Regions from separate parts of the Homo sapiens genome. Here region 1 is linked to region 2. A link means that fine-mapping ties the variant in region 2 to the expression of a gene that starts in the linked region. Tissue or cell type: whole blood. Region 2 holds a variant in brackets; the other region holds the start of a gene. All regions are shown on one strand. Distances are from middle to middle. Region 1 holds the start of LRRC28 (leucine rich repeat containing 28). Region 2 overlaps TTC23 (tetratricopeptide repeat domain 23).

The links. PIP is the estimated chance that this variant, and not a neighbour inherited with it, causes the effect.
Region 1: it holds the start of LRRC28, and the variant in region 2 is fine-mapped to the expression of LRRC28 in whole blood (TOPMed, PIP 0.93).

What each region holds. Positions count from the first base shown.
Region 1 is chr15:99,246,668-99,255,167 of GRCh38, forward strand. LRRC28 (leucine rich repeat containing 28) reads left to right here and starts at 4,814. Exons shown (of 10, transcript NM_144598.5): 1 at 4,814-4,874. It overlaps TTC23 (tetratricopeptide repeat domain 23), which reads right to left and starts at 2,914. Exons shown (of 14, transcript NM_001288615.3): 1 at 2,504-2,914. RefSeq lists an enhancer at 4,289-4,338 and a silencer at 4,589-5,128.
Region 2 is chr15:99,224,554-99,233,106 of GRCh38, forward strand. TTC23 (tetratricopeptide repeat domain 23) reads right to left here. Exons shown (of 14, transcript NM_001288615.3): 5 at 3,980-4,179. The coding sequence starts at 4,159. Among named protein-coding and RNA genes, the nearest start is that of TTC23, 21 kb to the right of the region's middle. The variant G/T (reference allele first, on the strand shown) is at 3,884.

The DNA.
Region 1 (8,500 bases), 22 kb after region 2:
CCCAGCACTTTGGGAGGCCAAGGCAGGTGGATCACGAGTTCAGGAGTTCGAGACCTGCCTGGCCAACATGGTGAAGCCCCGTCTCTACTAAAAATACAAAAAATTAGCTGGGCGTGGTCGTGGGCACCTGTAATCCTAGCTACTCGGGAGGCTGAGGCAGAAGAATTGCTTGAACCCGGAAGGTGGACATTGCAGTGGGCCGAGATCGTGGCACTCTGCACTCCAGCCTGAGCGACAAAGCGAGACCCAGTCTCAAACAAACAAACAAACAAACAAAAACCAAAAAAACCAAAAAACAATCAGTAACAAGATGACAACTCAATTAAAAAAATAGGCAAAATATTTGAAAGACATTTTACAAAAGAAGATATATGGATAGTCAACAAGCACATGAAAAGATGCTTCATATCGTCAGTCATCAGGAAAATGCAAATGAAAGCTGTAATAAGATACCACTTAAAATCCAGCTGAATGACTACAATGAATAAGACAGATCATAAGGAGTGTTGGTGAGGATGTGGACAAATTGGAACCCTCATACACTCTGGTGGAAATGTAAAATGGGAAATTCACCTTGGAAAGCAGTTGTGCAACACCTTGAAAAGTTACACCCAGAGTTACCATATGACAGTAATTCCACTCGTAGATATACACCCAAGAAAACTGAAAACACACGTTCATACAAAAACTTGTACCCATCTTCATAGCAGCATTATTCATAATGCTAAATACTGTACTGTATTTACTGTAATACAATTACAATTAGTACAATTAAACACTATATTTAAATACTAGAAGAAATCCAAATGTCTGTTAATTGGTACTGTTAAATAAAATGTGGATTATTACTTAGCAATAAAAAGGAATGAAGTAATGAGACATACTACAACATGGATGAACCTCAAAAACATTATGCTAAGTAAAAGAAACTAGATGCAAAGGATCGCATAATGTGTAATTCCACTTACATGCCCAGAAAAGGTAAATTTATAGACAGAAAGTTTTTTAGTGATTGGGGCTGGGGATAGGAAACCAGGACTTGCCTGCAAATGGGCACAAAGTATTTTTTTAGGATGATGAAAATTTTCTAAATTTTCTAGGATGATGAAAATTTTCTAAATTTTCTAGGATGATGAAAATTTTCTAAATTTTCTAGGATGATGAAAATTTTCTAAAATTGGAATGTGGTGATGGTTGTGATTTTCTAAAACAATCATTGAGTTATATCCTTAAGACAAATGAACTTTATAATATATAAATTATACTTCATTAAAGCTGTTAAAAATAGCTATGAAACCACAACGCAGTTTTATGTGTAATTCTGGTTTTTATACATATTATGACAAGACTTTTATAAAGACGGGGCAACCATGACTCCCCAAGACAGTGTGGCAGCGGTCCCCAAAAATCTTAAAGAAGTAAACTCAATGCTTTCGAAGACTACAAAGAAGTGCATCAAAATTTATATTATTCAACAATGATAAGGTAAATGTATTCGGGTAAGAAGCATGGTTACTAACCTGTGTGCCAGTATTTACACAGCATGGGGCCCCTTAGCTTCTGGTCTCTGCTCTGGTCTAGCCATCTTAAATTCCACTGTCAGTTTTATTGTCTTCAAATATTACTTTCATAAGGGGTGCCTCCTGTTCCAAACACAGGACCCAAACCCCTGATTTTGGGAATTCCGGCTCTTTATATTTCTCATGCTGCTTTTTAAAATTTGTAACCAAAGTTTCCAAATGAACCTTCTGCCGCAGTCAGAACCAACTCTTCCTCAGGCTGCATGTATTTGCTAACAACTCACTCACTAGTAGGGATGCCACTTCCCTTATTTTTCTCTCTGAAATTCTGCCCATTGCTCAGGCCCAAATTGAGTCTTACCCATACTGTGAAGCCTTCTCTGAATAATTCATCTCACATTGAGCTGAGCTCCTGAAGCACCTGTGCTCTACAACAGTCATCCGGGCATTAAGAACTGTTCAGAAGTTTTAGTTTAAATGTTCTGAGCCTCATTTGTCCCTGCTCTTGAGGGGCTGGATTTTATTACTTTATATTCCCCTATATGGATTAACACAGGCAACTTAAGAAATAGTCATGTTCATCAACGTTTCCTTGATAAATTCTTTTGTATTTGTTTTAATTAAAAATGTCATTTTTGAAATATGATTGCTGGATTTTTTTGAGAATTTACCCTTACATGCTGATTCTGCTTCAGGTATCTGTAGTATGTTTTGTTCAGCCATTAGCAGATCTGTCCCTGGAATCCCTAATCCACAAATATACACAAAATTTGGGTTCAAGCAACTCTATTTTCTCCTATATCTTTTAATAGATATATTATCTATTATGCCAGGTATGACAATATATAAACAAAAATATCCATATAAAAATTACAATATTACTAAATGTCCTTCTAAATCCACACTTAAGCAACAATAACGAAGCACAGTTTCTTAAAGTAGAAAATGATCTATAGTTAATCTTATTATCTTGCCTCCTTTACCTTTCAAAAATCCACTGATAATCTGGGCATGATGCTTTCAAACTTCACCCTAAAGAGAAAAATGCTCTCTGAACACTCTTCTTCCTGCTGTCTTTAAATTGTGCCTGTATTTTCTCTGCTTTTCCTTTGACACTCAATCACTCCTTTAAAACTTGTAAAAAACCGGAAAAGTTTCTGTAACTCTCCAATCTCCAACTATGTCGTAAAATCCCTTGCCAGTTTACCCAGTCTGCTGGAGAGGCTCACCGTTTCTTTTTCGAGCGAATTACACAGTTGTCTTGGCAGCGTGATTTGCCCTCTGGTTCCTGCTTTATCAGTTTGGTGATTCTTTGTACAGATTGATAACCATGAAAAAGTCTAAAGTAGGGCAGTTCCGGAGCAGCCTTTTCCCATAAAGCAAGCGGGTACCTCACAAAACTCCAGGCAAAAGAATGAATGATAGAGCACTCACCAATAGCGAGTGGAGAAGAGTATTTTGTCGAAGTTTGCAAACCAATCTTTGGGAGCCAGAGGTGGGAATTTTAAAATGAGGTCTTTTCCTTGGAATTTTCTTAAAGTGGTATCGTTGCCTGTTGATATTGAAGTTTGTCAAAGAACGTGAAATCACCAGCTTAGAGGATTTTTTTCCCCTTTAAGAGAGACAAAACGTGCGAATTGATTCTCTACAAATTGTGAGAACTTCAAGAGTGGGGTCATAAAGTATTATCAAATATAATCACTTGGTAACTTTTGTGTCAATGTGGGGAGGAGGTGAAGGTTATTTTAACATGATTCATTTTTCATGATCAAATATCAGATATTAATCACTGAAAAACAGTATTCCCCATTAAAAAAAAGAAATGAAAACTAAGAGGCTAACATTGTTTTCAAAAAACTGTTCTACTGTTAATCTTTTTTCTTTTTTGGGGGGTGTAACTCTTCATATATTAGCAGCAAGTCTTATTATTTGGGCTGACCATTAAACACCGTATCTTTGTTTTTACACAAAATGTGGATTTCCTCATTTTAAGACCAGCAAAAAATTTCTGAGTGCCACGAATTCTTAGGTATTCCGAAACTATCTTAGAAATACATGACATATACCAACCATGCTGTATACCTGAATAGCTCTTGAAGACCAGATTTAATAGATAACTGATAATTTTTATTATAACTCATACCTTGTTTTAAAACCAATGTTTTTTATTTAATATAACTCTGCTTTCTAGGTTATTCGTCTCTATGAATAATTAAGTCAGCAACTGTAAAAACTACTTCATTATAAAGTTAAAGTTCCTTGACAAGGAGCCTCGCAAACTCATAGACAGGCTTTCCACAGAACAAAAAATATCAGCGGTTGTAGTAGAGGATTATACTTTAAAATCTTCATTTCAGAAGGAAATTTGTCATATTAATGAGACACTTTAAAAAGTGTCTTTTAAAAATGTTTCCGAACTATGCTTCCAAGTATTTTTAACAGCATAAAGCCCTCTTTCATGCTATTTCGCTGACATAATAATTTTCGTCTTGAAGAAATACATATTGACGGCCTACTCAGTCAGGCTAGGAAGTGTCATTGTATTTAACTCTCTAAATTGTTCCTGACCTTTTTAGCAATCTTTACTCAAAATAAACCTTGGGTGTTTGAAGGGCAGAGACTAGGTTACGTCCTCCTCATCTTTGTTATCTACCAGTTCGTAGTGACCCCTTAAATCCGGTGCTTAGACTCACTACTTGCTAAATAACGTTGGCTTCGTTACATAAACCCACTGGCCTGTTTTTCAACGGTCAGACTGGCGCTGTTAGTCCCTGTGTCATGGGATTGCTGTCAAGGGTTCAACGAGATAATCTATAAACAGCTCTTAGAACGAACGCTCAACGTGGGATCATTGTTGTAATCCCTCAACGTGTGCTCTGAATGAGAAGCCGAGTGACTGAATGAATGTATGAATGAAGGAACAGGTCAGTAACTGGCGGTTCCCGAAGTTGGAGCCGACTAAATTACCCCTTCAAGACGCTAAGCAAAAGCCACTCCGTCGACATCAAACCCCACGCCGGAGCCGGAAGCAAGAGTAGAGCCGCGGGCGGGGCCAGCATAGAGGAAGTAGCGCTCTCGGCCAATACACAGATCGCTTGGCAAACGAGCATTTTCCCGCGCCTATCGTGAAAGCGCGAGAACACAGGGGATTATCGCGAGGTTCCGTGCTCCTCTCCCGCTCCCTCTTCCCCAGCTCCCTCTGGCGCGGGTTCCGCTCCACCCCCGGAGCCCCGCCCCCGACGCCCGGCGCTCCGCCCCGCCCTCGCCTGGCTCCCTGCCCCGCCCCGCCCGCCGTCCCCCGCTTGGCTTCCAGCGCCGCTTGCGCTCCGGAGCGCTGGCTCTGCTGGCGCTGAGGTGAGTAGAGCTGTCCGCCTCGTCGGGTGATTCAAGTGGCGAGGCTCTCTGACCCGGCCCCCCGGCGGGGACGCCCCAGACGTGGTCCTGCCAAAGCGTCCGGGTCGCGGCGAGTGGGACAGCGGAGCCGTCCGGGCCTCGGGTGGCCACAGCTGCCGGGTCCTCCTCCCACTCTGCGGCCCGCGGCCCCTGGGACCCGAGAACCCTGATACCGGGTCCGTGAAATCCCTGCTGCTGGGCTCGCTGCTTCCCAACTGTAACGATCTCAGTGGCTGGCTAACTCGGGCGAAACGGCGTGTGTTTTGCCTAAGACTCTGCCAGTGTTTGTTACCACAGCTGAGAAAATAGCCTTTTACAAATGCTTTTAATATGTAGCTTATAGTTCTCTAATCTCCAGCGTTAGGAAATTGGAATGCGTATTCTACTAAATTGAGTACGGGGAGGTCAGTATAAGGGACTCCTTCCTTTCAAAATACTCCTTAATATGTGTGGAATTTTGTTGAGAGGTTTTTGATTTTTTTGTTTTGTTTTTAATAATAAGATAGATTGGTGTTCACCTGTCAGAAAGCTCGTGTGTAAGTGCAGCTGTATACAGCTGATATTAAGTAATACTATTTGCCTTAACTACATAAGAGGTAGTATAACTATACAAGAGGTAGTTTGCTTAACTAGGTAAGATGTAGTCAAGTGAAATGGGGTAAGAAAATTACCTTGTTAAAGGCTGTGTATGGCCCGTGAATGCATACTGCAAAACTGTGAGCATTGTTGATGCTTTATTGCTATTATTGGCAGTTTTAGGATTTCATTTGTTTAGATTTTATCTCCCAAACAGCCTTTGTAGCAATTTTAACAGAGTGTAATGGTGTTTTTGAGGCAGCCAATCCCAGCCAGAACATTCAGAAGGAAAGCCGTCAGGTTACAGGGACTGTCTTATTGAATCTTCCTTCAGTGAGTGTGGTTTTGCATTATAGGGCGGCGGTGCACACGCTTTGTAGTCAGTCCACCTGCGATGGAACTATGGCATGTTACCCTCTGAGAAACTCAGTTTCCTCCTCTACAAAACGGGCTACATAATGTCTATTGCAGTGCATGGTTGTAAAGATTAGACATCCTTGTGGCATGTAGCAAGCTTATAGGCTCTATCCGTGGTCTTGACATAGTTGGATGAAAAATCAACCTTGCAATGTTCTTCCACATGTCATCAGATATTAGAAGGCCTACTTTAAAATTTTAAGTCCCTGGATACATGTGCAGAATATGCCGGTTTGTTACATAGGTAAACGTGTGCCATGGTGATTTGCTGCACCTGTCAACCCATCACCTAGGTTTTAGGAAGGGTTACTTTTAGTTACTGTGCTAGATGCAGGTATGCAAGCGTGAAGAAAACAACGCAGTCCCTGCCCTCAGGATTTCTAAATAAGTTTCGGAAGGGTTTATTTACAGGCTTTTTGGCTTTATTGACAATAGACAGATGCAACGATAAATATTTAAGTGACAAATTGTGAGGAGTCCTACGAAGAAAAAACAAACAGCCAAGTTCCTCTGAAAGAACACCAGGGGAATTACTTTGGGATAGGGAAGTGATTTTTTTTTTTTTAAGACTGAGTCTCGCTCTGTCGCTCAGGTTGGAGTGCAGTGGTGCGATCTCGGTTTACTGCAAGCTCCGCCTCCCGGTTTCAAGAGATTCTCCTGCCTCAGTCTCCCGAGTAGCTGGGATTACAGGCGCCCGCCACCAAACCCAGCTAATTTTTGTATTTTTAGTAGAGATGGGGTTTCGCCAAGTTGGCCAGGCTGGTCTCGAACTCCTCACCTCAGGTGATCCACCCTCCTCGGCCTCCCAAAGTGCTAGGATTACAGGCGTGAGCCACTGCGCCCGGTCTCAGGAAGTAATTTTTATGTTGAAATCTGGAGAATGATGGGACATTGCTTTCTAGGCTAAGAGGAGACCAGCAAGTGCTGTTAGGGGTTTAGTAGCTTTGAGGATTGGAAAAGCCCAGAAGCTTGGTGAGAAGCCAAGCAGAGTTGCTGGAGAAGTGGGTGGGGGCAGATGGTGAGGCACCCTCAAGGCCTAGTATGAGTTGATTTTCTAAGTAAGAAGTTTCTGAAGGGTTTATTTAGTAAGATGTGTACCGAAAAGAGTGAGATGTAATTGGATGTACATTTTTAAAGGCCCATTGCTGGGATTAATGTGTTGGAAGTGACTAGAGTGGACACAGGGAGACTGGTAATACTGTTGGCCAGGCAGGAGATGACTGTGGCTTGTGGTTTTGGCAGATGGAGAGATTTGGATGGATTTGAGATGTATTTGGGAGATAGAGGCCACTAGCCTTGTGATAGATTGGAGGTGGTCAGAATATGAAAGGATGGAATCATTCATGACTTCCTGCTTCTCCGGCTTGAGCCACTGGGTGGATGGAGGGGTGAGCCATTTACTGAGATGGGAAAAACTGTGGAGATTCGGATTGATGATGAAAATGGAAAGCTCTTTGAATGTGTTAAGTTTGAGATGGTTGTGAGACATCTAAACTGCTAACAGTTTCCTAGTTCAGTGAATAATTACCTATGAAGTTTCACTTTCTACACAGAATCATTGATGTTATTTGTAGTCTACTTCCCTTTGCTTTACAGGTAGGATAATTAAGATGTGGAAAAATTATCTTGCACAAAGTCACATTAATATATCTCATAAAATAGGTGAGTAGGTGGAATAAATGTGGGAAAGTATTGGATCCTTACGTTGCTTTGGAAATAGTATTTCATACTTTGCCTTTTTATATAAAATGGCAAGTGCTAGCTCATTAGCCAGGAATTAGAATTTGAAAATAATAAAATATAGCCAGAAAATTACAAAACTCATGTTTATTGAAAGCTTATGTTGCTGCCTTTTGTACTAATTTGGTATTAATTCCCAGTGAAAATCACTTTCCTTAAGAAAAAAAATTATTGAAAGGTACTTTCCAATAGAGAGTTGGGAAAAAGAGCTGAGGAAAACAGTCAAATCTTTAAGCAGAGCTCAACTTCTTTGTAGTTGTTTCAGCATTTCCTTAGTATCCTGTGGAATCTTGTGAGTCAGTGTCTGTGAAGAACCCAAGCTTTGAAATCCACTGGACCTGGTATCAAACCCTTGCTTTTATCCCTTGTGAACGGTCTAACCTTGGACAAATTACTGAAGCCTTGAGTTTGTTTCTTTTTGTGTTAACTGATGGTGAAGTTTGTTTTAGCTCTGTGCCTAGTGGATAAAACGGCAAATGTTACTTGTCTTCTTGCCCTTGTCAATTTTGGAGCTAGAAGAGAATTTATAATAATCTGCCCTGGACTCAGGCCTTTAAACCAGTACATTAATTGCTATCTCCATTCTGCATATTAGGCAACTGGAGACCCAGAGACATTGTAATATTATAGAATAATACAGGATTCTTGTTTCTGAGTGCAGTGTTTCTTCTTTCATTGAAATAATTTAAACTAATGAGACTGTGTGGCCCTGGATCTATTTCTTTGATGCCTCTGATAATCCATAAAGCTAAAAACAAAGAGGCGAGGCATCGTGGCTCATGACTGTAATCCCAGCACTTGGGGAGGCTGAGGTGGGAGGATTGCTTGAGCTCAGGAATTTGAGACTAGCCTGG
Region 2 (8,553 bases):
TGTTTGTAAATTTCTTACTCACTGAATATCCTGTATGGATAGCTTTGCACATACCCATAAACATTTCCACAAAACAAATTCCCACAAATGGGATTGCTGTATAAAGGATATGCAAAATTCTGAGGCTGTGAGTAGCTATTGAAGTGCCTCTCCCAGAGGTTGTACCAGTTCATACTTTCAGCGCAGCACATGTGAGCAGAAATGCCCCTTACGTTGAACTGAGTACAAATTGTGGAGTTTTTGTTTGGTTTTTAGTTTGTCAGTTTGTCAGTTAGCCCATTTCTCCTTGATTTAGTCCACATTTTTCTCCCAAATTGATGAGGCTGAGCATCTTCATGTGTTAACTGGCTGTTTGTACTTCTTTTGGGAATCACCTTTTTATTGCCTCTAGACACAGGAAGTTTAGGGAATGACTACTTTGGAGAGAGAGAAAGAGAACAACAACTACAGTGTATGAAAGACACGGAAATGATGACAACATCATGGAATCCAGACAGACAAAAAGAGAGGTAGATCTGTTTTGATAGTGAATCTGTCCCAACTACAGATTTCCAGCGAAGAGGACGGTGCAGGCTGAGTTGGGCTTCCCTGATAATAGCCTTGGTTCTCAGGACCTGAGTAGGGATAGAGGTATACAAGAAACAGCTTGTCCTTCCTTCACGTCCTTATTTGTTACAAGGCATGGTCCAAATATCCCTATTGGTTTTCCAACCTTTATTCTACCAGTTCCAGTGACTTTAGCAATAGGCATCAGTAAGGGGCAGACAGAAGACAAGCACGAAGTAGGAAGGCAATTTCAAAACTGGGAGGAACCTTGGAAATCATCTCACCTGGTCCCCTCAGTTTAAAGATGAAGGAGTCTAAGGCTGGAAAGTCGAGATGATTTACCAGCAAGTGGTAGCGCCAGGAAGTGGTTAAACCGTAAGGGGATGCATTGAGGACTCAGGAGCCAGCTGGAAGGGTCTCTCACTGGCAGATACGGAACAATCCGAGCTTCCATGAAAATAACAGGTTGTAGTGTATTTGAAAAATACAATTTCCTGAACCCATACTGATAGGAATAAATGAATGATAAATAAGCTGTGAAGAAAGAAAAGCTCTTCCTTATAATAGAATGCCAACAAACAAATGTTGAAATAATGTGGAAGTCAGAGACTGGCTATGTGACAAACATCATAGTAATAACTGATTCAGGTGGCAGAGTGAAGTTTTAAATATATACATAGTCTCAGTGAATCTACCCACAAAATACTTATTAATTACAAAGGGAAAAATGGCAATTCTGCAGTAAAGAAACCTGCCAGACAGCACCTTAACCAAGTGTTCAAGGTTGGCATCACTGTACGAAGACAAACAGACATTCTGCACCTCCTGACAGGACGCACTAAGGAGCGCCCCATGTCACACCTGTGGTAGTCCTGCTCCAAATGTACAATCTGAATAGAATCATGAGGAAGCATAAGACGAACTCAAACAGAGAGATATTCTACAAAACAATTAGAGTATATATTTCCAAGATATCAAGATCATGAAAAACAAAGTAGGTTAAGCAATTGTTTCAGATTAAAGGAGACTAAAGAGACATGACAACTCTATTTAACATGAATTCACAGACTGAACCATGGGTCTGATTGTTTTCTGTAAAGGACATTATTAAGAAGAAATATAAACAAGGTTTACAGATTAGATAATAGTATTATACTGACATTAATTTCCTAATTACGATCACTGTACTGTGGCCATGTAAGGGAATAGCTTTATTCTTAGGGAATAAACACTGAAGAATTTGGGGGTAAAGGGCCATAATATCTATAACTTACTCTCAGTTCAGAAAAACAATTAGAGTCAGAGAACAAAGCAATAAAGCAAATGTTAAAAATGAGTGAATCTTGTGCCTTTTCTGTAAGTCAGAAATTATTTTAAAATACAAAATTACTAAAAAACTGATATTTTAAAAAGTAAATTACGTCATGTTAATACCATGCTGAAAATATTTTTAAGGCCTTCCAGGGCACTTAGCTTGAAACCTGCAAGGCCCTAAGTGAACTGACAGCCTCTCTCACTATATTTAATGTCAGCTTGCAGCTTCTTCTCCTTGCTTCAGATATGTCCTGCTTGTGCCTACCCTGTAGATTTATGTGTGCTGTTTCCTCTCCCTGGAACTCCTTTCCCTCAGCTCCTCCACACTGGCTCTTCTCTTCCTCAGGTCTCAGCTTATCTGTCACGTCTTCCTGGAGGCCCTCCCTGATCACCCTACCCAAGACGGAGCCACTCTATGTCCTCCTTAGCACTTATCACAGTCTATAATAATCCGGTTCATTTACAATGTTGATTGCCTCTCAGGTCCATCAGGGTATGCACCTTGTCTGTCCTGTTCACCATTGTATGCTGGATTCTTCACCAGAACCACAGAACAACGAAATGTTTAATACCATTCTAGTTACACAGAAAAGAAGTTAATTCTTTACATTTGTTAAATGCCTTTGGGCATGAGGGCTTAATTCTTTTGCAGAAGTCTGTTTGAGAAAGGCTGCCAGCCTAGAGCCTACAAATAGTAGGTTCTGAGTGAGTATCTGTTGCATAATGAACAAGCACAACCTCAAAACCAAATTTATGCTCTTTCTCTATAATCCTGGTCTTTCTCCTGTATTTGTTATACTGATGAAGGTCATGGACAAGTCTCCAATCACCCAAGCAGACTCAGACCTTGGGTGGTGGGAATTCTACACACCCCATCTTTCTCACTCTCACATCTCCATTCCCTATGTCCCCTCAGTCATCCAGTCCTGTCCCACTGATTTGCATTTCTAAATTCCTTTCAAAAGAGCTCAGCATTTCTATTGTCTCTGCCACACGTAGTTCAGGTCCTCATAATTACTTGCCAGGATTACTGCAAATATCCTCCTAACTGATGCTCCTTTTCCAGTTTTACTCTTTTTTTGTCCATACCCTTCACAGCTATGGGAGTGACTGTTCTTAAAATCAGACCTGCTCATGGCATGCTTCTGCTTATAACCTCATGGTAATCCTCCATCATCTTTAGGAGAAAATCAAAACTCTTTCACTAGGCCTTGAGTGCCCTCTGGGCCTCAGTTCCTGCCCATAATCCAGCTTCATTTCTTGCCCTGTGTCACTAACACATTAGTCCCAGACAGCTCCTTACAGTTCCCCAGACAGACTGCACTCCCTCAGACCATTGGCTCTTGTCCATCTGCTACCTCTGTCCAGAACATTTGGTCCTCTTCCTCACCTGTCCAACTCCTAAGCACTGTTTACCAGTGCAGTCTACGTAACTCCCATCCGAAGAAAGTGTGCCTTAACTGCTGTCCCTCTACCACCTCCAGGCTCACTGTCCACCCCTTCGTGTTTTGCATCTATGTCACTCGAGCTCTCACAGAACTCATCAACCTGACTACCATTATCTGTCCCCCGTCTATCTTCCCAACCAAATCCCGAGTCCCTCCAAGACAAAGACTGTGGCTTTTCCTTCTGTGCCCCTGGCACCTACATTGCACCTGGCACATATTAGTCATACAATAGATATTTATGATGACTGGATGAAGAGGACCCAACATATAAGAGGTGATAGAGAAATGCCTACTGAATGAGTTAGTGAATGAGTAAAACTTTTGAGGAAAGAATGGGAAAGAAGCATGCAGAGAACAAGATTTGAGATTATAAGGAATTACAAGCTCTATGAGAGCAGAAGCTGCATCTGCTTTGTTTGTGTTGTATCCCAATGCCTAGACTTGGCACACAGTGCGAGCTCAACAAATATTTGTTGTTGGCCATGCGAACTGCTGTGCTTGGAGCCTAGAGGTACTGCATTCATTCATGTTATAACAAAGGCACTGTCTTATATACTTTCTTGTATCAAACTGCT[G/T]AGATTAGGAATGTAATCCAAAACATTCTACTTCTCTTGATTATACCATATAGCTCAATTCTCAGAGTAGAAATACAGAAACAAAAGTCTCCTTACCTCATGACTGTTGGAATAGGACTTTGCTTTCTCTTCACAGAGGTGGAGTTTCTCTCGAGGAGGCTGGAATAGTGCTGTCTGAAGCAGCTTGTTTTGGAACTTCTTTCTATGAGTGATGCTAACAGCAGCAACAACTTCATCTAGGTGGTTGGATATGTGGGTTTCCTGTGATTCTTGCATATTTTTATATACATTGTCTTCTAATTTTAAAATAAAAAACAAAGATGTTAAATGATAATTTCCATAGTTACTTTTAGAAATATACATTTCAACACTATACCCATAATTTCTTTGAAATTAGTAGCATTATATCCCAAAAGATTATGGTGGCTACTACTGACCTGCTGATTTCTACTTTCAACTAAATTAAACCTTCTTTCTTTATGTATATAGACATACATATATATATGCCTACATACATATACACACATACATACACATGTATATAAACACACATACATACATGTATATGTGTATGTATTACACACATACATACATACGTAAAGTCCAGTAGAAATTAGCCTAGCACATACATATGTATTTGTATGTACATATATATATAAAGTCCAGTAGAAATTAGCCTAGCACATACATATGTATTTGCATGTACATATATATATATATATCTAAAGTCCAGTAGAAATTAGCTTAGCCCAAACAGCTCTCAATGACCCCAGATTAAATCAGCTGAAGCCCAATTGACCCTGAGGTAGAAAATAAATAATTGTTGTTACAACTTTTGCTTCTGGCCAAGATGAAGTCTAGTAACTACATTTATCCTCTTGCCTGAAATAACCCAAAACAAACAGATAAGCAGCCCACAGAACAAAGGATAAAACAACGGTTTCAAGAAACAAGACAAGCAATGAGAGAGCAATTCCTGAGAGATGGAAAAAATAAATCACCCCAGTTTATTGCTTTGAGAGAGTTTCCAGGAAACAGCACAGGGAAGAGGGGACCCAGAAGTTATCCCAGTGGACTACCTGAGTTGAGGAAGTAGAGTTGAGAGTTTGGGGAGACCAAGGTGACTAGAACTGACAGGACAAATTACTGAAGAGGAGAAGGCTCCAGAGACAGAGGAACCAAGATATTAGCAGAGGGACACCCTCAAGTATAGGGACAGAATACTGATTAGCATGTGTGTAAGAAAAGTATTTTAGTCTGGAGAAAGAATCCTTCAATAAGGTTACAGGGAACAGTGTTTTGTGCTAACGTAAGGCTGGCGCCTGTTCCCACCAACCAGACTGAAAAAATTTCTAATTCATGAGGCATTAGATAGTTAGAGTACTCAGAAGCCTTTCATCTCAGTAGAGGCGATAATTAGCTCTAGACTGAACACTGCTCAGATCACCACACAGATCAAAAAAGTAAGACCTAAAAGGATCAAACTGTTTTCAAGGGACTTAATTGCACTAGAGGATAATACTCAAGGATGTTCATAGGAATACTAAAATAACCAACACCTAACGAGGTAAAATTCACAAAGTCTAGCATCCAAAGATTACCAAGCATCCAAAGAAGCAGGAAAACATGGCCCATAATGAGAATAATCAATCAAAACTGACCCAGAATTGACACAGATGTTAAATTAGCAGATAAAAACATTAAAACAATTACAATAATTGTATTCTATATGTTTAAAAAGTTAAATAAAGACATGGAAGAAATAAAAAAGACCCAAATGGAACTTCTAGATAGAAAAATTATGTGTGAAGATGAAAATGTGTGGGATTAATGGCAGATAAGATACTGCAGATGAAAAGATGAATTTGTAGACATAGCAATAAAAATTATCAAAAATGAAAAAAAATCAGTGGGCTGTAAAACAACTTCAAGTTGCCTAATATATATGTCATTTGAGTCCCTAAAGAAAAGCAGACTAGAGGAGGGACAGAAAACATATTTGAAGAAATAATGGCCAATATTTTTCCAAATTTAAGAAAAAGCATAAAGCCAGAGATCCAAGAAGCTCAATGAACACTAAACGCAAGAAACATGAAGAAAACTATACCAAATAAAGTCAAAACATCATAAACAAATTGCTTAAAACTATGATAAAGCAAAAATCTCAAAAGTAGAGAAAAAAGACACATTACGTATAAAAAATAAAGATAAAGATGATAACAGATTTCTTAGGGGAATAAAAAGCAAACAAGGAGAGAGTTAAAGATACTTCTTATCTTTAAAGTATGGAAAGAAAAAAGTTGTCAACCTTAAATTCCGTACTGGTGAAAATACCTTTTGAAAACAAAATTTTAAATAATTAATCGCCAGAAGACTTGCACTACAATGTTCTCAAAGAAATGTAAAAGGAAGTCTTTCAGAAGGAAGGAAAATGATAGCAAATGGAACTCTAGTTCTACAAAACAGACGACCTTGGAAATGGTACGTACATGGGCAAATGTGTAAGGCTGCTTCCATATTACAATCATGTCCAGCTCCACAGCATTTCAGTCAATGACTGCATACATAAAGGTAGTCCCATAAAATTACAGTGCAGCTGAAGAATTCCTACTGGGTAGTGATACAGTAGCTGTCGTAACATCATAGCGTAATGCATTGACTCATGTGTTGGTGGTAATGCTGGTGCAAACAAACCTATTGTGCTGCTAGCCATATAAAAGTAAAGCATATACAATTATGTACAGTACACAATATGTGATAATAGTTGATAAATGACTGTTACTGGTTTATATATTTAATATACTACATTTTATACTTATTTTAGAGGGTACTCCTTCTACTTATACATTTCTAAAAGTTAACTGTAGAAAAGCCTCAGGCAGGTCCTTCAAGAGCTATTCCAAAAGAAGGTATTCCATTATCATCATAGGTGATGAAAGCTCCATGCATGTTACTGCCACTGAAGACCCTCCAGTGGGACAAGACATGGAGGTGGAAGGCAGTGATATTGATGATCCTGACTGTGTAGACCTACATTAATGTGTGTGTTTGTGTCTTAATTTTGTTTTTTTTTGAGACGAAGTCTCGCTCTGTTGCCCAGGCTGGAGTGCAGTTGGCACGATCTCGGCTCACTGCAAGCTCCGCCTCCCGGGTTCACACCATTCTCCTGCCTCAGCCTCCTGAGTAGCTGGGACTACAGGCGCCCGCCACCATACCCGGCTATTTTTTTGTATTTTTAGTAGAGATAGGGTTTCACCGTGTTAGCCAGGATGGTCTCGATCTCCTGACCTCGTGATCTGCCCACCTCTGCCTCCCAAAGTGCTGGGATTACGGGCATTAGCCACTGCGCCTGGCCTGTTTGTTTGTTTGTTTTGAGACGGAGTTTCACTGTTGTTGCCCAGGCTGGAGTGCAATGGCTCTATCTTGGCTCACCGCAACCTCTACCCCCCAGGTTCAAGCAATTCTCCTGCCTCAGCCTCCTGAGTAGGTGGGATTACAGGCATGCGCCACCATGCCTGGCTAATTTTGTATTTTTAGTAGAGACGGGGTTTCTCCATGTTGGTCAGGCTGCTCTGGAACTCCTGATCTCAGGTGATCCACCCGCCTTGGCCGCCCAAAGTGCTGGGATTACAGGCATGAGCCACCATGCCTGGCCTGTGTCTTAGTTTTAACAAAAAAGTTTAAAAAGTAAAAAAAGAAAATAAAAAATTTTAAAAATAGAAAAAAGCTTATAGAGTAAGGATATAAAGAAAGAAAAATTTGGCGGGGCGCGGTGGCTCACACCTGTAATCTCAGCACTTTGGGAGGCCAAGGTGAGCGGATCACAAGATCAAGAGATGGAGACCATCCTGGCTAACATGGTGAAACCCCATCTCTCCCAAAAATACAGAAAATTAGCTGGGCGTGGTGGCACATGCCTGTAATCCCAGCTACTCGGGAGGCTGAGGCAGGAGAATTGCTTGAACTTGGGAGGCGGAGGTTGCAGTGAGCCAAGATCAAGCCACTGCACTCCAGCCTGGGCGACACAGTGAGACTCCATCTCAAAAAAAAAAAAAATGATCAAAGGGCCTGATAGATATTCCTCAAAAGATATACAAATGCCCAATAGGTGTATGAAAAAATGCCCAAGATTGTTATCATTAGAGAAATGCAAATTATATCCATGAGATTTCATCTTACACCTGTTAAAATGGCTATGATTAAAAAAAGAAAGATACATGTTGGTGAAGATGTGGAGAAAAGGGAATCCTTGCACATTGTTGGTGGGAATGTAAATTATGGAACACAGTAAGGAAGTTTCTCAAAAATTAAAAACAGAACTACCATATGATCCATGAATCCCACTACTGGGTGATACATCCAAAGAACAGTATTAGTATATTGAAGAGATCCCTGCACTCCATGTTCATTGCAGCATTATTGACAATGATCAAGATACGGTGTTAATGTAAATGTCTATCAACAGATGAATGGATAAAGAAAATGTGGTATGTATACACAATGGAATACTACTCAGCCTTAAAAAAGAAGGGCATCCTGTCATTTGTGACAACATGATGAACCTGGAAAATACTATGTTAAGTGAAATAGCCAGGCACAGAAAGACAAATACTGAATGGTCTCATTCATATGTACAATCTACAAAAGTTGAACTCACACAAGTAGAGAGT